Linked DNA regions of Homo sapiens: regions 1 and 2 are each linked to region 3. Evidence: fine-mapped expression QTL. A gene starts in region 3. Each other region holds a variant in brackets. All regions are shown on one strand. Distances are between the middles of the regions. Region 1 overlaps ANXA13 (annexin A13). Region 2 overlaps FBXO32 (F-box protein 32). Region 3 holds the start of FBXO32 (F-box protein 32).

Evidence for each region. PIP is the estimated chance that this variant, and not a neighbour inherited with it, causes the effect.
Region 1: its variant is fine-mapped to the expression of FBXO32 in fibroblasts (GTEx, PIP above 0.99).
Region 2: its variant is fine-mapped to the expression of FBXO32 in whole blood (TOPMed, PIP above 0.99).

The regions. Positions count from the first base shown.
Region 1 is chr8:123,678,133-123,683,991 of GRCh38, forward strand. It overlaps ANXA13 (annexin A13), which reads right to left. Exons shown (of 11, transcript NM_004306.4): 11 at 2,662-3,227. The coding sequence ends at 3,108. Among named protein-coding and RNA genes, the nearest start is that of KLHL38, 27 kb to the left of the region's middle. The variant C/T (reference allele first, on the strand shown) is at 3,072.
Region 2 is chr8:123,517,970-123,522,969 of GRCh38, forward strand. The region is part of intron 4 of FBXO32 (F-box protein 32); the gene reads right to left. Among named protein-coding and RNA genes, the nearest start is that of FBXO32, 21 kb to the right of the region's middle. The variant G/A (reference allele first, on the strand shown) is at 2,459.
Region 3 is chr8:123,538,394-123,544,252 of GRCh38, forward strand. It overlaps FBXO32 (F-box protein 32), which reads right to left and starts at 2,813. Exons shown (of 9, transcript NM_058229.4): 1 at 2,506-2,813. The coding sequence starts at 2,621. RefSeq lists silencers at 2,710-2,799, 2,850-2,959, 3,050-3,339.

The DNA.
Region 1 (5,859 bases), 140 kb after region 3:
ACCATGAGCTAGTCTGGCGAAGAGCACGGGCATTAGAGGCAGAAGGACTTGGGTTGAATTCTGGCCCTGGTACTTTATGTGGGTGATCTTGAGTAAATGACCTGGCTTCTCCATCTTATCAGCCTCAGTTTCTCCACCTGTAAAATATCTTCTTGCTTGTCTCTGTGTGAATTATGGCCATCAACAATCTCAAATTGTGTCTGTTTTTAATAGATCTCTTTTCAGTCCATTGATTTGTTTTTCTGTCCTTACCATGAGCTCAGATCCCAAAAACTGGTTGTTTTGTTTCTGGTTATAAAAGCAAAGACCAGCTTTGGCAACAAATAGGTAAATACAAATACGTTTTGTCACTGAGCTTGGTTCTAGAAAATAATTTTTTATGTATTAAAGTTTATAATGATGGCAATGACTATTAAGTAGATAAACCAGGATGTGGAAGACACTGATGTTAACATAACTTCTTAATATGTCCATCACTGTTTTGTAGCAACTAAAAAGACAATTATGGCATCTATCCTTAACTGATTGGGCTGTTTGTTATATGTTGATCACACCCCAAATGGTGTGAATGAGATTGTGCTACTTAGTAGTGTCAGGCACAAATAATCAGCCAATGAAGGATAACTATGATTATTGGACCAAGGTGTTCAGGTTCTGTTGACAGATCCCTCTATGTCTAGCAGCCACTAAAGTGATTTCCCAAAGCCCAGATGTGATCATGTTCTTCGCTTAAACATCTCCAATGACTGCTGTTGCCCAGAGGACCAAACTCATGCTTGGCAGGCAGAACCATGGCTGATGTGGTTCAAACCTATTTTCACAGCTGCTTTGCCTGCCTGCCAGGGCCATTCCTTTCTTTCCACACATCTGTGCCCCAGGAGAATGGATTTCACCTCTCCCTGAACACACCCTGCCCACTCAGGCTTCTCCAGCCTCTGCTTGTGCCCTTCTTCTTTTATTTTTCTGGAGAGCTTCTATGCATTCTTTAAAACCCAGCACAAATGCATCTCTGGGAAGTGTTCCCCAGTTCCCCATGCAGAGCTGTGTGTTCTCTCTTCTTACTCATAGGTAGAGCCCTTTACCTGCTTGATATGGTTTGGCTCTGTGTCCCCATCCAAATCTCATCTTGAATTGTAATCCCCATGTGTCGAGGGAGGGACCTGCTGGGAGGTGATTAGATCATGGGGGGAGTTTCCCCCATGCTGTTCTTATGATAGTGAGTGAGTTCTCACAAGATCTGATGGTTTAAAAGTGTGGCACTTCCCCTCCCCCATCTCTCCTGCCACCATGTAACACGTGCTTTGCTTCCCCTTTACCTTTTGCCATGATTGTAAGTTTCCTGAGACCTCCCCAGCCAGGTGGAAATGTGAGTCAATTAAACCCGTTTTCTTTATAAATTACCCAGTCTCAGGTAGTTCTTTACTGCAGTGTGAAAATGAACAGTGTGAAAATGAACAAATATACTGCTCTTATTAATGCACTTACAGCATTCTATTGAATAAAAGAGACATTATTGACCTGGGAATGAACTGCCCCAAGGGGAGTCAGTGTTCTACTTGTCTTTGTATCCTCAGAGCACACCACAGTGATTGGCAGATAGTAGGGAACTAAGCAGATGAATGAATACAGACCCATTCCCATGTACTTCAACTGATTTTTCCAATTAAGGCAGTTAGTAGCATGATTCCTGGTGTCAGCCAGCCCTGGATTGAAATGCTAGTTGACATGGTTTGGCTCTATGTCACCACCCAAATCTCATCACAAATTGTAATCCTCATGTGTCAATTGTAATCCCCAGGAAAGACCTGGTGGGAGTGATTAGATCATGGGGTCTGTGTCCCCCATGCTGTTCTCGTCACAGTGAGGGAGTTCTCATGAGATCTGATGGTTTTATAAGGGGCTCTTTCCGCTTCGCTCACCACTCTTTCTTTCCTGCTGCCACATAAGACGTGCCTCCTCCCCTTCCACCATGATTGTAAGTTTCCTGAGGCCTCCCCAGCCCTGCGGAACTGTGAGTCACTTAAACCTCTTTTCTTTATAAATTACCCAGTCTTGGTAATTTTTTACCGGTAATTATAGCAGTGTGAAAACAGCACTTGTAAATGAATTTAGATAGGTTACTTAATGTGTCAGTTTCCTCAACTGATAATTGGGAGTAATATTAACCACATAGAGCTGTGGGGAGGATTAAGAATGAAATTGGACTACTCAGTGTCAGGCACAAATAATCAGCCAATGAATGACAACTATGATTATTGGGCCAAAGTGTCCAGGTTCTCTTGACAGATCCCTCTATGTCTAGCAACACGTGGCTATGAGACTAAAGTTTTGGAACACAGAATCTATTGGTGTGGAACCAATTCACTTCAGAGGTAGACCATTGATCTTGATCTTGTTGGCACTTTGCTCAGCTTAATTGTATTTGAAGATCAGAGGGAAGACTCAAGTGGGTCAAATGTCTAGAGAAGAAAACCCAGTTAAACCAGGTAGCAGATTAGGGAATTTTACCCTTAGTTACAGTTTACAAAAGCAAGTGAATTGTTTCCTTATGACTAGCCTTGATTAGTGACCACTAAAAAATGTAGGTTTGAATTTCACAAGTCATACATTTCCCAGAGAAGAGCCCAAACTTATCAAGACAATCTTTGGAAAAGCAGCTGATAGAGGCATAATCCACAACTTTAATTAACAATGAGGCTTTCAAATTGAACACACAGAAGGAAAATTAATAAATTGTTTAATTTTGTCTTTCCTGTACCTTACTTGTGTGATGCATATCCTTCTAAATGTGCCATTACAAATGCATAGTTTTTTCATCAACTGCTGATTTCATTAGTGTTTAGAAAACATCCAGTTACCATGCTAAAAGAAAGTGAAGAGGCAGCCTAGATGCTTGCTAAGCCAGAGTTCAAGGTGCCCTGCCCACGCATCTTAACGTTACTGCCCTTAACTTACACAGCTTGGCCTGGCTGCGCCACTTAAGCTGCCAAGAAAGTAATCCGGGACTCTTAAGGGTTTTCGTGCGGGAGTCTCATTTGCAAGTTTGATTTGGAATGTGCTCTTGACAAAGG[C/T]GGTTCCACCCTGTGTTCCTATTGCCCTGGCTTGGCTCAGTGCAAGAGGGCTACTAGCAGTTTCCGGAAGTCCCCGGAGGTATCTGAGCGAACCATGTCAGAGAGAGACTTCTGATACTTCTCTTGGAACTTTGCTTTGATCCCCTGAAGGTCCACCTGTAGAAAAAATAACAGCAATGGAGATAAGAACGTTTATGGTGTGTTCACAAACAGTGGGCACTGTTCTACACATGTTATACTCATTTGCTCATTCATGCCTTAAAACAGCCCTTGAGATAGGGCTTTATTTCCTATCATTATTTCCTTTATCACGTTATTTCAATTTTGTGATCAGGAAAGGGAAGGCAGAGGTCAATTCCCCAAAGGTTGCAGAGGTGTCCACGTGTGTGTGTGTTCCACTAAAACTCTTGAATTTCTTTTTTTTTTTTTTTTTTTTTGAGACAGAGCTTTGCTCTTGTTGCCGAGGCTGGAGTGCAATGGTGCAGTCTCGGCTCACTGCAATCTCCGCCTCCTGGGTTCAAGCAATTGTCCTGCCTCAGCCCCCCAAGTAGCTGGGATTACAGTCAACCACCATGCCTGGCTAATTTTTTTCTGTATTTTTAGTAGAGACGGGGGTTTCATCATGTTGGCCAGACTGGTCTCGAACTCGTGACCTCAGGTGATCCACCCACCTCAGCTCCCGAAGTGCTGGGATTACAGGCGTGAGCCACCGTGCCTGGCCCTAAAACTCTTGAATTTCATACAGTTTTTACATGTTACAAAGTATTATCTTTCTTTTGAGTTTTAACAGTTATTTGAAAATGAATTGCCCTAAGCTAGCAGGACTGTACACAACCTGGCAGTGAGCCTGAATTGGCCTGCAGGCTGTAGTTGGTTGACCCCTGGTATAAAACTAAGAAAATTGTCAACACAGAGATGTGGAATTAAGCAATTAAGCAGTTTTTCCCTCATACCATGATTAGCAAGGATATTAGTACCAGTCAACACAACTCAAATCACTAGCAACTTGTAGGATTTATTTTGAATCTAATTTATTGGAAGCTTGAAAAACCCAGGTGCTAGAAGTGATGATAGGACTCAGGAGAAAAATAAATCCAAAGATTGCTCTGCCAGAAGATTCTTACAGCCTAGCAAAGGAGACGATACTTGTACCAGAAAAGATGTAATTCCAGGTAGAACATAATGGATCTCATAAAAGAAGCAGAGAACTCTTTTTAACCAGGAGTCTTTCTTTTCTTTTCTTTTTTGGCTTAGACCCTACCTTGTACTCCAGACCCAAAAAGTGTGGCTCAGGGATCTGATTCTTTCTTCTCTTGCCCCAGTGAGAGGGCTGAGCTGAGACAGTGAGAGAAATGATCAGGATGGGAGTATGTGGGGGAGTGAGGGAGGGTTTGCAGTGGATGTGGAGCAGGTGGCAGACACTACAGGAGACAGGTGGTGTCTGTCTCTCCCCCAGCCTGTGTGTCCCCCTGCTCCGCTGCTTGGCTCCTTGCCCCGTGCTGGGACACGGGCAGGAAGGTGGAGGGTGGGTAGGGATGGGGTGCACAGGGCTCTGTTCTGTGGCTTTGGGAGATTAGGAAATCTGGCCAAACTACTATATCTAGCCAGGCCTGAAGCCTTCTGAGGTAACTGCCCACATGTTGAGATGGCCCAGGACGTGTGGTTGATTCTGAGATGGGACAGAGCTTCTTGGAATAAAACACTCCGTGGGCCATGTCGGAGTGATCACGGAACCCTCACAAGCCCTTCGGATGGATCCAGTCTCTCTGGGGGTCATTTGGAATCCTGGGTCTTCATTGTGTTCAACCTGTCCCTTTTGAGTCCCTCAAGATCTCTCATCTCTCAGTGACTTTGGCTGGAGGTCGAGTTGCTAACAGACAGAGGGACGGACAAGGCAGAAGACCTGGAGAGAAAGGAGGGAGAGGGATTTGGAGCCATGGAGGAGAGAGGCAGAGGCATGGCAGGAGCAGAGCAGAGAGACTGGCAAAGGGAAAGAGGGGAGAGAGAGAGACATGGCCTTCAATAGAAAAAGATGAGTTGTGGAGGAGGAGAAAGGAGGGGAGGAGAAATTCCAGGAATAGAAATAAAAAAGCAAGAACCATCTTGTTGCAAAGTTATATTTAAAAACAGTGTCAGATGTTAAGCATTATTTGTTAAGAAGCCATGGATCAGAATTTGGGTTGGTGTCCCTCCCCCTTCACCTCCCCCTTCATTTAACCACTTTTTTTTTTTTTTTTTGAGGGAAGATGTCTGTGGTTTTCAAGTGCTTAGTTCCACTTCATTCCCCAAGGCTTCTCCTGCTGCCGATGAAATGCCACTTCCCCTTTATTTTGTACCACCTTCTGTCTGTGGCCCCATATCCCGAACTGTTAGCTGTGACCTTTTTTTTTTTTTTTTTTTTGAGACCGAGTCTCGCTCTGTTACTCAGACTGGAGTGTAGTGGCACCATCTTGGCTCACTGCAACCTCCACCTTCTGGGTTCAAGCAATTCTCATGCCTCAGCCTCCTGAGTAGCTGGGACTACAAGTGTGTGCCACCATGCCCAGCTAATTTTTGTATTTTTAGTAGTGACGGGGTTTCACCATGTTGGCCAGGCCGGTCTCGAACTCCTGACCTCAGGCGATCCACCCACCTCGGCCTCCCAAAGTGCTGGGATTACAGGCATGAGCCATTGCACCCGACCAGCTGTGATCTTGACGGCTGCTCCCAAGCCGTTGGCTCTTCCTCTCCCTTTTCTTTCTTATACATACACATTCTCCGAGAGCAAGCACAAATTGGTTTTTAGGGG
Region 2 (5,000 bases), 21 kb before region 3:
CCACGTGGTCTCTGTAGCAACTACTCCACCCTGAAGCTATAGCACCGAAATGGCTATAGACAATGTGTAAATGAGTGGGCATGGGTGTATTCCAATAAAACTTTATTTACAAAAGCAGGTGGAGGGCCAGATTTGGCACCTGGGCTATGTCACAGTTTCTGGTATATATCATAAGAGTTTAAGAGTGAGGGCTCCAGAGGCAAACTGTCTGCCTCAGTTTTCCCATCTTCAAAATATGCACAGTAATAGTACCTACTTCAAAGTTGCTGTGAAGATTAAATGTATTCACATAGCACTCATAACTGTGCCTGCTACAAAGAATATACTCGATAAATTATTATTGTTAGCTTTTACCATAATACAGAGCATTACCAAGTAAAATTATTGCCAATCAGGAAATAGTGAGTTAACAGGGCAAAGTGCAACCCATTTAAAGACCTTCAGAATTGCTGTATTTCAATTGTAGCTGTTGTCAAACAAATAAATAAATGCTTTCACACTGTAATATTCCTTTCTGTCATTTTACTATGTTGGTGATACATTTAATAGCACCCTATCTGTTGATAAAAGTTAATGCTGATACATTTTATGACTTGCATAGTTTTTCTACCATGGAGTCTTATTTTGCTAACAATAACAATAACAATGGGGTGCTTACTATGTGTCAGCAACTGCAGCTAAGCACTATACATTTGTAATCTTGTTTATCTTTTACAGCAACCCAGTGAGATAGCTTCTCCATTTAACCATTGAGGATATTGAGGCTCAGAGAAGTACTCACCTAAAGCCATACCAGCAGTAGCAAATGCTGGAGCCAGGACTTGAGCCCAGATATGTCTAACAGAGAACACATTTTCTTTTTTTTTTGTTGAGACAAAGTCTCACTCTGTCACCTAGGCTGGAGTGCAGTGGCACAGTCATGGCTCACTGTAGCCTTTACCTCCGAGGCTCAAGCTATCTTCCCACCTCAGCCTCCCAAGTAGCTGGGACCACAGGGGCACAGCACTATGCCTGGCTAATTTTTTTTATTTCTATTTGTAGAGACAGGGTCTTCCTAGTTACCCAGGCTGGCCTCGAACTTGTGGGATCAAGCGATCCTCGTGTTTCAGCCTCGCAAAGTGCTGGGATTACAGGCATGAGCCACTGTGCCTGGCAGAACATATATTCTGACAGTTTCAGGACTTCAGTTTGTCAAGGCCAATCAATTTGCATGGAGGGCCAAATTTTACTCCAAAATGGGAGCAATACCATTTATTGTTATGTTCTGGGGAAACAGAGTCTAGAAAATTTTATATAATATTGGGCTGGGCGTGGCGGCTCACGCCTGTAATCCCAGCACTTGGGGAGACTGAGGCAGGCGGATCACGAGGTGAGGAGATCGAGACCATCCTGGCTAATGGTGAAACCCCATCTCTACTAAAAATACAAAAAATTAGCCGGATGCGGTGGCGGGTGCCTGTAGTCCCAGCTACTCAGGAGGCTGAGGCAGGAGAATGGCGTGAACCCGGGAGGCAGAGCTTGCAGTGAGCTGAGATCACACCACTGCACTCCAGCCTGGGCGACAGAGCAAGACTCCATCTCAAAAAAAAAAAAAAAAAAGAAATTTTATATAATAATATGTTGTGACTGGTAAACAACTTTTAATATTAAGGGCACTGTAATGCTCAGAAAGTGCTACCAGCACATTTAGGATGAGGCAACTGCTTTGGGTAAACCACAGAGTCTACTTTCCACATCAGCATCACTCTATAGGCCCAGAGCTACTACTAGGTAGTGATGTATGGAACTAGTAGTGAAGAGAGCAGAATTTACCGATTTTTAAATTTTTTAATTTTTGAGACAGAGTCTTGCTCTGTTGCCCAGGCTGGAGTGTAATGGCGTGATTTCGGCTCATTGCAACCTCCACCTCCCAGGTTGAAATGATTCTCCTGCCTCAGCCTTCTGAGTAGCTGGGATTACAGGCACCCGCCACCACACCTGGATAATTTTTGTATTTTTAGTAGAGATCGAGTTTCACCATGTTGGCCAGGTTGGTCCTGAGCTCCTGACCTCAGGTGATCTGCCTGCTTTGGCCTCCCAAAGTGTTGGGATTACAGGCGTAAGCCATCGCGCACAGCCCAAATTTATCGATTTTATTTGTGTTAAGAGAGCTGCGTGCCTAGGAAAGTAGGTTTGTATCTAGCAATCTGTGTACCAGGATGACTTAGCCAATTGGATTCTTTGCCCCTAGCCACAAGAGAAAAAAAGAACAGAGGAAAATGTCTTGTTTGGAAGTGGCTGCTTGTTTTTGACTGGGCAAATTTTAGCCCAGGTGCTAGTAATTTGTGGCTATGTTTAAAGAGAGGCAGGGGGAGGGAAGGGGAAGGAGGAGGAGGCTTCTCGGCTCCTCTGGAATTCCGTGGTGTCATTATCGTGTGGGCACTCTGGGCATCCGGCATGATCTGCAGTGACGAGCCGT[G/A]CAGTACCAGGAATGGCTCTGAGCTACTGGAGGGAGGGATGGTGGTCACCGCATGCTGAAACCACATCCTGCCCTTCAGCTTTGGCTCATGCTAGTTCTGGAGGCAACGAATAGGAGACAAATCTAGTTGCAAGCAATATCGTATAGCAAATCTCAGAGCGGATATCAACCAAAGTTTGAAGTGGTGTGTGCAAGACGAATGGGCAGAAGAGAGATTTCCCTCTTATCTCACTGCTCTCGTATCAAGAGCAGGCTTCTTACGTCTTCTTCCCTACAGTTTATTTTAGCATAGCATTCATAGTTTTAAAAATCCATCAGTTCACGTTACTTCTTTGCTTAAAATCCTCAAATGGCTTCTCCTTGCGCTTAGGAAAAAACTCAAGCTCCTTACCATGACTGGCAAGGTTCTCCCTGATCTGGTTTCTACCCCTTTTCCAGCCTAGTTTTGCACAAATTCACTCTGCTCCGGCTACACAGGTTATTCGTCTCTCGAATAGGCCAAGCTTATTCTCACCTCTGGGCCTTTGCCTCTGCCACATCTTTACATGCTCGGCTCCATCCCATCCCTCAGGTCTCAGTTCAAACGTGGCCTGCCCCGGGCTCAGAGGGCCCTTCCCTGGCCATCTTATGCAAAAACCTCCCTGTTGCCATCTTCACCTTACTATGGTTTCATTGTTCTTCATTGTTGCATTTATGCATATCTGAATTGGTCTTGTTCACTTACTTGCTGATAGGCTAATTAGGATGGAACCCTCAAGACAGCAAGTGTTGTCCTGTTTCCCACTCTACCCCCAGCTTGGCACATGGTAAGCACTCAACAAATAGTGTTTTTTAAAACATACATTTGTCTTTTTGAATCAAAGAGTGTTGTAGCTGGAAGGGACTCAGGAAACAGTTTACCCGAATTTCCTCCTGCTATAGATGAGGTGGCTCATGATGGCCAAATGACACATCAAGGTCAATGGTGGACCATCTGGCTGGTCAGGCTGATATCTATATGGAGACTAGTTCCAGACTGATGCCCCAGGAGTGGCATGGGCCTAGGAGTAAATTATTTATAATGCAAACATATCTCAAACACTTTCCAGAAGGGCAAGCAGCCTGAGATCTGGAGGGACAGTAAACACTTGGGCTTTCAGAAGCATCAACAAAAATAGCAGCTTCCTCTACCTGTTAGTTTAAAAGGACAAAACCACAAGGCTGCTGCCTAAGCATGCTCTATCATTCTCATACAGAATTGTTAAGAATGAGAACACAATTTATCCCCAAATTCCTTATCTCGTATAACAGTGGGGTGTTACAGTATGAAGTATGTGTCTGACTGGAAAATCTGCCAGAGTTATCAAAGGCAGAAACGAGTCCCAGCCTCAAGCAGCCTTGCCATGCCTCACATGCTCAATACCCAAGTTGGGTGCCCATCTATAGGAAGGTTGCGTCTTCTATAATAAACCTTTAGTTAGACTAGGCAGTGTCTCTCTCTGCTCTGAGTGCTGGGTACTTCCAAGACCCTTATTTACTCAATGAATAACACAGATAAAAAACCTGGAAAGTTTTGTTCTGACTTTGAGCTTGAACACTGACAGGTTGAAAGAGAAAAAAATTTCAGCGACATTAATAATCTGCAGGCATGTCAAGATTGGATAAATATTATTTGCAAGTGAAACAGCTCTCTTTTAACAGAGGGAGTTAAAATAATAAGGAGAGCCAAGTTTACATGCATTAATTGTATTCTCAGCAGAGAGAGACTTGCCTCTTCATCTTTTACCCATCCTGGTTACTTTTTTTTTTTTTTTTTTTTTTGAGATGGAGTCTCACTCTGCTGCCCAGGCTGGAGTGCAGTAGTGTGAGCTGGCTCACTGCAACCTCTGCCTTTTGGGTTCAAATGATTCTCCTGCCTCAGCCTTCTGAGTAGCTGGGACTACAAGTGCCTGCCACCATGTCCGGCTGATTTTTGTATTTTTAAGAGAGACGGTGTTTCACCATGTTGGCTAGGCTGGTCTCAAACTCCTCACCTCAAGTAATCCACCTGCCTCGGCCTCCCAAAGTATTGGGATTACAGGTGTGAGCCCCCACACCTGGCCCTGGTTACTTTTGAGTTGACAATGGCAGTTTATTCCCCATTACATCCATCTAACAGCGATGTCTGGCTTGGCGATCTTCCTTAAACTGAGCTCCCATCTATTCCAGCAACTGTCACCTCTGCCCTATGGTTCTATAGGCTGAATGTCACATCGCCATTGGCCCCTGACCCACAATCATTCCCCTTCACTTTTGTTCCTTCCCATTTCTAGGTTCTGCTTACATTGCTTGTCCCTGCAAAGCCTTCCACTTGCCTTTCCATCTGGCCAAATCCTGGCCGTCCCTCAAGGAAGGAGAATTTCAGGTTCTACCTCTTTCAAGAAGCCATCTCCAAGGCTCCTAGACTGTACTAATTCAACTTGCCATTTGAATAGTTATACTTTGTCCCCCAGAGTAGCCCAGAAGTACCTGACAAGCAGGGGCTAGGTCTGACACGATTCTCAAGTGGCTATGGCAACACTAG
Region 3 (5,859 bases):
GTTCTCTGTTTCACGGTCCCTCCCCGCTTAAGGGCCTGCCTTTTGTTTTCTCATAACAGGAGAGGCATTCAGCTTCACCTGTGCAGGCAGGCACGCAGTCCAAACCTGACATCACGGGGAAACATCACCAAGACCAAAAACAGTGAGGATATTTGAGATGACAAACCCAGACCACAGAAGGCCAACTGCTTTTAAGAAGTTGCAGGCTTCTCATGCTAAGCAGGGAAGGGATTGTTTACAGTTGCTGGAAAAAAAAATACCCTGCAAACAAACAGCCAGCTGCTTTGCTAGGAGGCTACCAAATGATTCCTAAACGCTGACTCAAAGGACCACAGGTGGTCAGTATATCAATGACTATTTGCGGTAATGATGATGGATGTGACAGCTCCAGCTCAGGTGTGAAATGGGAAGAAAAAGAGGCTCATGAACAGGACACGGGAGGGGGGCTGTGCAGGAAACCACCTGATTCCAGCCCAGTCTAAACTTTTGTGGTAAGTTAAGACCATCTTCAGGTCTTCCATACTGTGAAGACAGAGATACCACTATTTCTAAAGGAGAGTGACACCAGTTTCTCTCCTGATGCCGGTATAGGGTATTTTAAAACAAATTTTAAATTTTTATTTATTTTTAGAGACAGGGTCTCGCTCTGTGGCCCAGGCTGGAGCGCAGTGGCACAGTCATGACTCGCTGCAGCCTTGAACTTCTGAGCACAAGCCATCCTCCCACCTCAGCCTCCCGAGTAGGGTAAGTATTAATACGACCCTACATTTTAAATCTTCTGCTGAACTCAATCATCTGTTCTCCACTGAGGAGCATCCTGCAATTATATTTGGGTGAGCAGCTCTAACATGACTCTTCAGACCCTTTCGGCACTTTTCTAGAAAGAACCTGAACTTGTATACAGAAATAAAGTACCAACATATTAGATCATTGTCCTTAGGAACAAGGAGGAAGGAAGGAAGGTTCCCATTTTGTTGAGGGAGAATAATTTAGGCATAATTGGTAACTCCAGTCGATAAAAGACATAGTCTGTCAATAGCAGTTGGTCTTACTTTCCCGTAAATAAATTACTTGATTTTACGTAAATAAGATTTCCTTATGGTGGTCCCTAAACTCCCCTGGGACAGCCTCCAAGTAACTCCAACGTAAATGGTTATATGCTGGTGGTTAATACGCTCAAGTCTCTCCGGACAGACCCCCAGAATTAAATAATGTCTTTCTTTACATTGTGAGACAATGGGAATTTGATGCATTACAAATCACAAACAAATGGGAGGCACGGGAGTTCAAGTTGCCAAAATAACCACATTTTCTTGATAGTTTTCTCAAAATTTATTGCCAATGCTTCATCCAAGCAACGACTGGTAAATCTCAGTAAGCGGGAACCTGGCCCAGAAACAGAATTCTCCATTGAAGTCAATTTAAGGGTGCAGGGGCCCATGGTTTTAACCAAAGGTGGCAGGAAAAGGCTCCCAAGGGTGACTCTGGCTGCACCAGTCCATTCTGGAATCACTTTCATCGCCCCCGCTCACCGGGCTAAATGCTGAGAGTCTCTGAAAGTCAACTGTCGAGGTCAGGGGCTGAGAAATTCCAGGCTACCTTGCGTACTAGCCGGCGCTGGCATCGTTAGCCAAGCTGAGCAGGGAGCGCAGCGGACCTCAGGTTTCCCGCCAGACCACAGAGCTCAGGTGAGGCCTCGAATCCAGAGGCTCACCGGGGCCAGGCAGGCTTTTCGCAGCTGACAGGCACCCCTGGAAACGGAGTGCACTCTATACAAAGCAGACCGACCGAGAGGGCCACCGAGGAAACAGGTGCAAGAGCCCTGTCCTCCCAGAAGCAGAGCTCTTGTGGGATTCATCCCCTGCCCCCTTCCCTCCTTTGCACCTCTGCAGCCCCAAGCCTCCACCGCTCGCAAGTCCGCCCAGTAAGCGGCTGCCCCAGGGACCATCTGGCCGTCCCTTCCTGGTTACTCATCCTCCCGGCCACTTCGTGGTTGCCCGTGCCTGGGCAGGGCCTGGAAGCGCTCCAGGCGGGACCTTCGTCGGATCCCGTCACCTGTCGCGTCCACAGCGCTTGGGCGCTGGGAGCCGGGCCACCCCGCGGTGAAGGGGCTCAGCCCACCCGCCCGCGCCCCCACATGGGCAAAGTGCGCGACTCCGGTGTCCTTAAAGCAGGGACCACTAAAGCTGTGTGATTAAGTTTGAGCGAACGTTTGGGGACACGATCCGCGAATGTCATCAGACTCTCAGAGGGACCAGGTGTTCTGTAAGGAGTCGTGTCCACTTGGAGACACTGACCTTGAACAATAAGAGAAACCGAATTCCCTGTCTCCGGTGGTCCGAAGACCTCTGCAGAAATCGGGCCCCGTAGTCCCACCCTCCGGGTCAGGGTCTCCCTCCTCAGCCCGCTCCAGCCCTGCCTGCCCCTCATTCGCCGTCCCTGCGCCCCCCAGACCAGCCCGGGTCAGTTTCGCGGGGGCTGGAAGTTGGTAGCGGGTCCCCTCACCTGCTGAGGTCGCTCACGAAACTGCCGCTCTTCTCATCCAGGAAGCGCTTCCAGCCGTCGGCCGTCTTCACCCAGTTCTGCCCGGGGGACCGCCAGTCCTGCCCGAGGAATGGCATGGCACCGCGAGCGGACTAGACGGATGGGGAGACGGGGCCGGCCTGGTGGGCTCGGGGACGTGCCACCCGGGGCGGATGCTCGGGGTGCAGGGGCCCGCGACGGGGGCGGCGGGGCGGCGGGAACGGCGCGGGGCACCCTGCGGGGTGGCGGGCGCGGAGAGGATCTCAAGCGTTGCAGGCTCCGGGAGTGCTGCGCGGCAGTAGCTGCCGCAGTATTTATCCCCGCAGCCGGCCGCAGCTCTTTGTTGCCGGAAGAGCCGCCCGCTCTTAGCCCGGCCCCCCGGCCCGGAGGCCACGTGGCTTTGTTTATGGGCTCGGCTTGTTTTCCGAGGCGCCTGCGGCTCACGCTCCCCTCCCGGTTGCACAACCGCGCCGGTGGAAACTTGAAGCGGTGCTGCCGGGCCGGGTACCCCGCCGCCCCTGGCACCTCCGCGCGCCCTCCCCGCCCCCAGGACACCGTTGTCCCAGAGCGAGGCCCGGCGCTTGGAAAGATGCGCCCCGGTCTCCTGCAGCTCCCGGGCTGACGGGGTGCAGGGAGGGGGCCGGAGGGGCGTCTGGGTCCCTGCGGGGTGGGCGTGAGGAGCAGGGCCAGCCCCCCTCCTGCCCCCGAGCTATCAGGATCGACCTCCGCAGCCAGATCAGCCTCCCGGGCCGTCCGCAGAGCTGGGGCCGGCACCGCGCCCGCCGGGCGGGGAGTAGGGGGCGCAGCCTCCTGACCTCGCTCACTGCCCCAACCCCGCCCTAGCGCGCGGGGGTTGGAGCGGGGAGGAGGGACAGCCTCCCAGCCCTCCGGGCCCCTTAGCTGTCACTAACCAGTCCTCCTTCAGACCTGCCCCTGGGGCAGCAAAGGAGGGGAAGGAGAGGAAGCCCTGGGAGGTATCTGGCTCCCGCAGGTTGGGAGTGGAGAAAAAGAACAGCGCCCCTATCCTACCCGAACCCTCTAAGAGACGGGTTAAATGATGTACCCAGGGCCAATGCTACAGTACAATCTGAAACTACCCTGTTTGCTTTTACTTTTTGCTGTTGTTACAACAATCTACCCCTGTCTGCAGTGGGAACTCCATGAGAGCTGGTCTGTCTTGTTCCGGAGGCATTTCAGCCCCTGCACCCTGCCAGGCCCAGTGCAGGCCTTCAACAACTATTTGTGTGAATAAGTGAATGGATACGGGAGGCTGCTGGCATGAGGGTGGCTTCTTGCCCTTCATCACCTCTAGTTATGATGCTTTACAGCCTGGTCTATTTGGCAATTAGTTTGCACAGGACAGCAGCAGCAGAGTAAAAATCCCATACTCAAGCATTAGCTTCAAACTTCATTCTTCCATTCTTCTTTCTCTGCAGCCATCAATATCATCTAGTCCACTGACTCGGTGTAATCTTTAAGGCTCAGGCAAAGAAATTGTGTGTGCCCTATGAGGCTACATGTTGGACTGGGAAGACGTTTTTAATAAAGTTTGTTTTCAAGAAGCCAGAGCTTTCTGATTTAGATTTCCCACCGTAAATAATTTATTAGTGTAGTAATAGTAAAAAAAAAGCTTGTAAAAACATTGAAGAAGTCCCAAACAAATGTTAAACACTGTGATGGTGCTAACAAATGAGGCAGTGTTGGGTCTGGTCTCTGTTGGAGGGAATTGGTATCTGCATAATTAAGGGATGTGATTATTATTATTATTATTTTTGAGACAGGGTCTCATTGTGTCACTCAGGCTAGAGTGAGTGATCATGGCTCACTGTAGCCTCAGCCTCCCCAGCTCAAGCCATCCTCCCACCTCGGCCCCAGTCTCCAGTAGCTGAGACTACAGGCACTCACCACTGCACCAGGCTAATTTTTTATATTTTTTGTAGAGATAGGGTTTTGCTATCTTGCCCAGGCTAGTCTTAAACTCCTGGGCTCAAGTGATCCTCCTTCCTTGGCCTCCCAAAGTGTTGGGATTACAGGCGTGAGCCACCATGCCCGCCTGGGATGTGATTATGAACAATGTGGGTTAGTTATGTATTAGTAAGCTGGCTACATACCTGTAGAGACCACAGAGGGCCAGAAGGTAGAAGTTTTGAATTCTAATTCTGCTGGAGCAGCATACTACCTGTCCTCCCTTGGATGAATGACTTAAACTCTTAGGGCCCCATTTACTTAACTGTCAAGAAAAAATGGAGCCAATAATGCCTACCTTTCAGGATGGTTTAAAAGCTGTGGTAGATTGAATTATTAGTACCCATTCTTCCCTCCTTTCCAGTAGCGTCATGTGCCCACACTTTTTGGTGATGTGTATTTTTCTAATTCTTGACAATGGGCTTGGCCATATGACTGGCTTTAGCCAAGGGGATGCTGATGGATGTGATGTGAGCAGAGGATCTGATGTATGTACTTGCCTGGTTGGTCTTGATGTTTTGTGTGTTCACCTGCTCCATGAAAAGAGCATACCCTGTGTAGCCACTGCTCCTGGAGTGGTTTGAGTGACATCCGTGTGTCCCAGGATGTGACACATGGAGCAGACACTCCCGTTGACCTCACAGATGTGTTAGCAAGAAATAAATGTGTCTTGTTGATGCCACTGAGATTTTTGTGATTTACTGTTACACAGCATTATTGTGTCGATAGCTGACTACTATAAAGGGTTGAGTGGCTCAAAGTTGGTGAAAGTTTCTTTAACTTCTAAAATTCAAGCACAAATAGGAAATTACAATTATTTTTGTCCTTGTCTTTTTGTCTAATAACTAATCTTAGGAAGCCTCAGTGTTTGTCTCTAGTCCTTCCGCTTTCTGTTCCTTAAAACAAACAAACAGAATTGTTGCTATCATATCTTAATGCAGGCTTCTTCTGAAGTGTGATTGACTATTTCAGATTTCTCTTACCATAAAAAAATCTAATTTGAGACTTCTTTTTTTTTTTTGAAACAGAGTCTTGCTCTATCACCCAGGCTAGAGTGTACCGGTGCAATCATGGCTCACTGCAGCCTTGAACTCTTGAGCTCAAGTGATTCTCCTGCCTCAGCCTCCTGAGCAGCTAAGACAACAGGCGTGCACCACCATGCCTGGTTGATTAAAACATTTTTTTTTTGGAGAGATGGGGTCTTGCTATGTTGCTCGGGCTGGTCTCAAACTCTGGCCTCAAGTGATCCTCCCGCCTTGGCCTCCCAAACTACTAGGAGTACAGGCATGAGCCACCATGCTCAGCTGACACTTATTTAAACATGGTTTCTACTGGGAAGTTTTGTAATGCTGGACCCCTCAAGATAAAGAA